Regions from separate parts of the Homo sapiens genome. Here region 2 is linked to region 1. The links come from fine-mapping of genetic effects on gene expression. A gene starts in region 1. The other region holds a variant in brackets. All regions are shown on one strand. Distances are from middle to middle.

Region 1 (2,911 bases):
CCTAGTGTTGGCACTCACATTATTTTCTGAACAAATCGCACATTCTCTTCTCAACCTGTTGCAAAACACTCTAAGTTCGATATTGTAACCATTCTTGGAAACCATCTAAGATCAATACTCTCTTCTCATTACCAAATTTAATTTTCATTCCTCATCTAGCTTAATCCTCATCTTATTTTACTTAATCCTCATTTTATTTGACCTATCAATAACATCTGACATAGCTCGCCACGTCCTCTTCTTGAAATTCTTTCTTCATTTGGCCTCCTGGATACTGTTCTCACTTGGTTCCCTTCCTCCTAATTCACTAGCTATCCCCTGAGCTTCGCTTTGTGAAATTTCACTGAGCCAAACACGAGTCATACACTCTCATTTCAATGTATACTTCCACAAAAAGTAAAAAGAAAAAACACGAAAATGGTTGTGATGAACTCTCTAATAGGCATCTCATAACATATCCCGAAGTCAACTTATCCCTTAGTCTTTTCTTTCTCAGGACATGGAAGCCCATTCTCGTGGTGCTCACCATGACAGTTTCGGTCTGAGCAAAGGCATTTGGGAACGCCAGCCTACAGCCAGTTGGGTGTGCAGAACAAAACCATTGTGGTTTTTCCTAAGTCTCCCCTGAGAAACAGTCAGGAGGCGAGGAGACTCAATAAACCCGCCCCTTTGCCACAGGCAGGGAAAATCGCAGTTTGGGGTCTCAGGACCGACCTCGGTCCAAGGCCAGGCACACTGTCACTCCAGCCTGTGCCACCCTCACTTCCAGCGGCCCCCGTCCCCCCCCCCAACCCCGCGGTCACCTCCCCCACCCCCCACTCACCTCCCAGCGGCCCTCGCCTCCCCCTGGCCCTCACCAACACCCCCACTCGCCGCCCCCCACATCCAACTCCCGGCCAGCCCTCCCCTCCCCCCGGCCCTTGCCTCTCCAACACTCACCTCCCGTTCGGCCCTCCGCTCCCCTACACTCACCTCCCGTTCGGCCCTCCCCTCCCCCACACTCACCTCCCGTCCAGCTCCGACCCGGAGGTGTCGGCCGAAGGCCCCGTCGCTCCCTCCGTGCTGAGCCCAGAGGCCCGGCGGCTTCGCCTCCGCGGTCGAGGCTGCTTCTGAGCCGCCAGCTCGGGCTCCATGGCACGGAGGAGGGGGTGGGGCGGTGGCCGGGTGCCCGGGAGACCGGCAGGGACGGGCACGATGCCCGCCAGCCTCTGCCAGGCAGAAAGCGCCTGTCAGCGGACTGCAGCCGCCACCGCCGTCATCCGGGGATTTGAAAATGGCGGCTGAGCAGCGATCAGCCAATCAGTGAGCGCGCAGCGGTTCCTAGGAGACGTGGAGTCCCGCCCCTCCACCGCTCCCGGGATCTACTTGCCTAGGAAAGAACCTAGGAAAATTTGCCCTTAACTCCTGAGCGCATCCCTGAGTCCCTAAGGCCCGGTACCTCCTTCATTGTTCATTAGGACTTTCACTACAGGCCAAGGCAAATGGACTGGAAGCATTTTAATTCACCAGATCTTTCTTAGCATTTGAGGAGAAGAGAGGTCCAAACTAATGACCTGTAAACAAGGCATGTTTATTGGCCATATTCACACTGAATTATTGTGCACGTGGCCAATATGAGATATATTTCCAATTACCAAAGGTTATGCAAGTGTGTTCCCGGGACTGTCTCTAGGGAACCAGCAAAATCTAATTATGAGCCCTTATGTCTTCCAATAAGCATGACACAGTCTCTCCCTAGCAAAACAGAATGAAGTGACTTCATCCTTTGCTTGTAAAAGTCAGCAAAAGACATAATATAAAATAAAAGACCGCTTCAAGTAAAAAAAAAATTGTTAAACAAATTACACTTTCTTTGATTTTAAATATTGCTTTATATGTGTCAAAGTCTTTAAAAATAGCTTCTCCTGACCGGGCGCTGTGGCTCACGCCTGTAATCCCAGCACTTTGGGAGGCTGAGGCAGGCGGATCACGAGATCAGGAGATCAAGACCATCCTGGCCAACATGGTGAAACCCTGTCGCTACTAAAATACAAAACTTAGCTGGGCAGAGTGGCGCATGCCTGTAATCCCAGCTACTCAGGAGGCTGAGGCAGGAGAATTAGTTGAACCAGAGAGTCGGAGCTTGAATTGAGCCAAGACCGTGCCACTGCACTCCAGCCCAGTGACAGAGCGAGACTCCGTCTCCAAAAAAAAAAAAACAAAAAAACACTTCTCTTTTGCCAGTATATTTCCACTTATGGAAATTTATCCTAAAAAATAAAATTATATAAACATGAAGCTATTAATGACATTGTTTATAATAGAAACATTTAAAACAACCTAAATAAACAATGATTTATAGCTCATCCACTGAGAAGAATATTTTCAGCCAACAAAAATGAAGTGTGAAGTATGTAATAGTATACTGGTAATTTGAAATAAAAACATGAAGTATAGAGGTATATTCAGTATATTCAAAGTTATGAATTACAAGAGATTATACAAAGAAAAAAGATAATGTATTAAAATGTATTAAATGTATTAAAAAGTCAATGTATTAAAATGTCTCTAGGTAGACTTTAGGTATTCAAAATTTTTATTTTTATTTTTTGCATTTAATTTTTTTAAAAATAAGGACATATTGAATTTGCAGTACCTTTATAACATGAGGGAAAAATGTTTTTGTTTTAAAAAGAGTAAGAAATTAGGGAGTAACATTGAGATGTGAAGCCAGCTAGACTTCCTGGGTAGAGTGGGGACTTGGAGAACTTTTCTGTCTGGCAAGAGGATTGTAAAACACACCAATCAGTGCTCTGTAGCTAGCAAGAGGATTGTAAAATGCACCAATCAGTGCTCTGTAAAAAGCACCAATCAGCAGGACCCTAAAAGTAGCCAATCACAGGGAGGATTGAAAAAAGGGCACTCTGATAGG
Region 2 (2,911 bases), 150 kb before region 1:
TCTAGGCCCACTGCAACCTCCGTCTCCCTGGTTCAAACAATTCTGCTTCAGCCTCCTGAGTAGCTGGGATTACAGGCACATGCCATCATACCCAGCTAATTTTTGCATTTTTAGTGGAGACAGGGTTTCACCACGTTGGCCAGGCTGGTCTCGAACTCCTGACCTCAGGTGATCCACCCATCTCGGCCTCCCAAAGTGCTGGGATTATGGTGTGAGCCACAGCACCCAGCCTTTTTCTGAGAAAAAAAGATAGATATGTAATAATCTTGCATGATAGGTTTTTTGTTCTGTAGGGTTCTCTGGCAGCCCCTGTTTTATCCATTGGACCAACTGTCTGTAAAGGCAGGTAACTTACTTACTTCTTTCTCCTGGAGAAGGACTTTTTGCCCTAACCGAAGCACACTAGTCACAGAGTTGTCCTAGTGACAAAGACACAAATTGAAGCTGCACTCAGTACTCATGGCTGATCAAGGGAAGTGAGCTCATCTCACCTTGACTCACAGCGATGACAGGTTCAAGCCCCTGCATGTGGGCCCGTTCCTCAGAGGATGTTTGCAATGGGGGTGGGGGTTGCCATGGTGATGCCCAGTCAACAGAATGGAGAAAAGAGAAATTTGGTTTGAAATGAAATTTGAGTCTTGAGAGAGGGCTGATATGAAGGAGAATCAAACAAGCCACATGGGAGCATCTGAAGGCCTGGAGATAAGGGCCTGTTGCATGGCTGTGAAAATTTGGCCTTTAAAATAACTAGGCATGGGCCAGAAATCACAGCCGGCGGCTGCGACCACCCAAGTGAGTCAAAGGGAGCTGGATGAGAAGGTGGGGGGCACGCCTGGGTTAGGGTCCTTGACAGTTTTGTCCAGATTGGGTTTGAGTGTGGGGTGTCCTCATGGGACTCTGGTGAGTTGGGGGTGGGAAAGGCGGTTGACTCCTTGGGGGCTGGTCACCACTCAACAGCTGTTCTCCAGTGGCACTTTATGAAGCAATGTTAGCAATGGGAGCTCCCCTGCCAAGATGTGGGTGGTCGGTACCCAGTGGCTTTCAAAGCCAGCAACCCAGGGATCTCACAGAAGTCCATCAGCCTGAAGGCAGGCACGTGGGAGATGACTAAAACCAGGTGATGTAGGCAAGAGGTACCCTCAGAACGCCCTCGAGTTGCCCCATTGTTCTTTTCTGTGCTGCCTGTGTGTGCAGCCGCTGAGCTCCTTGTGTTTTCGGGAGGTGGAGTATGCACCCCTGTGGGCTCATCCATCCTCGCCCTCATCATCCTCCCTGGCACCGTGCAGACTCTGAGCTTCTGCCCGCCCCACCCAGGTGTCTCATCCCACCTGCCTCGGGGAGCCTGGCTGAACAGCAGGCACCACCCTGAGCCACCCCTTCCCAGCCAGAGCAGCTCCGGTCGGAGGCTTCCTCCCAACAGGCGGGCTTCTTAAGCCTCCTTAATCTGCACGGAGGAAATTCAGAAATCCAGTCATCCTGAAACCATCTTCCTTCGGGGCAGGACAGAACCCGTGTGTGTGGGTAGATGAGTGTGGATGGTGGGGGTGGGAGGCACATTTGTCATCGTGCTCAGCCCAGAACTTCCCAGATGTTCAGGCCAATCAGGGTGAAC[C/T]CTTGAACTTCCCTGGGCCTCTGATGCCCGGCTAGTGCCTCAAAAAGCCTCATCCGCGGGTGCTTAAAAAAAAAGACTTGAGGCTTCTTTACAGACACAGCTCATTCTAGAAATCTTCCAGCCCCAACATCACCAAAGGCGAAGAGAAGAAGGAAACTCACTATTCTAGCAGTCCCTGGGCCAAGAGCCTGTTAAGCCATTTTACGAGCCGTCCCCTAAAACATGACAATTCTGCCAGGCAGGTGTGGCAGAAGCGGGGCTATGTCTTTCCCAGAACACTGCAGCTTCAGCATGTCCTGCTTGCAGCCGGGGCCCCTGGGAGTGATGCTGGAGGACACCACCTCCAGGCTGCCCCAGAAACCTCCTGCCCAATACTCACACCGTCTCTCTTCATCTGTTGACCACTTTAGGGCAGGAGATCCAGCGGGGGACTATGGAGCTCAGTGGAGCTGCGGCCTGGGAGAAGCCCACCCAAGAGAACCATGTAACTAGAAACCATCACATTCGGCTTCGTGTGAGGGAGAAGCAGGTGTTTCATTGCACGCAGTTACTGAGATCTGGGGTTGTTTGTTATTGCAGCAAGGACCCACCCTAACACACGAGGTGTTATATGCATTTTACAGATTGCCAAGATGGTACAGACAGCAGAAGTGGCAAAACAACACTTAAACTCAAACCTGCCCAACTTCAAAGTCCACGCCCTTCCCTGGGCTTCAGACTGCCGTCTTTGATGCTATCTTTCATTGAGATGTTGTTTGCATTAAATGGGGGATCTTGCGGCACACGGTGGACCTTGCCCAGCACCCACTCTTCCTAGGGCCAGCCTTACTCTGTGGGGTCAGCCTTTGACCGTCTGGGCCATGAAGGTGGCTGATGAGGCCCCTTCGACAGCCAAGTTGGGGCACAATCTCCTCCGGATGTTGTTATTCCTTCACAGTCTCATCGCAGGCGGGGAGGAAGTCAGAGGGCTGATTTAGAGGACAGAGATACAAACAGAGTGAGCAGAGGATGTTTGGCTGCAGTTGCTCCAGAGTTTCAAGGGAGAAAACACAAGCATTGCTGAGCGGCCATTAGGGGCTTGCACGCTCAGCTGGGCACATGTCCACACCGAGGCATCACGTGCGGTCTGAGCTGAGCTCTCATCTCTGGGTTTCAGGACTTTCAGCACAGTCCTGGCCCTTCACGTTTAGTCTGGGTGATCAGGGATGTAAACCAGCAATTGCAAGGTGGTGAAGCACCACCGTGGAAGGGCACCAGCCGGGCCCTGGGGTCACAGAAGTGCCCCAGGAAGTGTGGCCG

What was found.
Region 2: its variant is fine-mapped to the expression of NET1 in whole blood (TOPMed, PIP 0.91).

What each region holds. Positions count from the first base shown.
Region 1 is chr10:5,410,915-5,413,825 of GRCh38, reverse strand. NET1 (neuroepithelial cell transforming 1) reads right to left here and starts at 1,269. Exons shown (of 12, transcript NM_001047160.3): 1 at 1,006-1,269. The coding sequence starts at 1,133. RefSeq lists a silencer at 928-1,357.
Region 2 is chr10:5,564,417-5,567,327 of GRCh38, reverse strand. It overlaps LOC105376381 (a long non-coding RNA gene), which reads left to right and starts at 447. Exons shown (of 2, transcript XR_001747274.2): 1 at 447-792; 2 at 2,023-2,911. The variant C/T (reference allele first, on the strand shown) is at 1,613.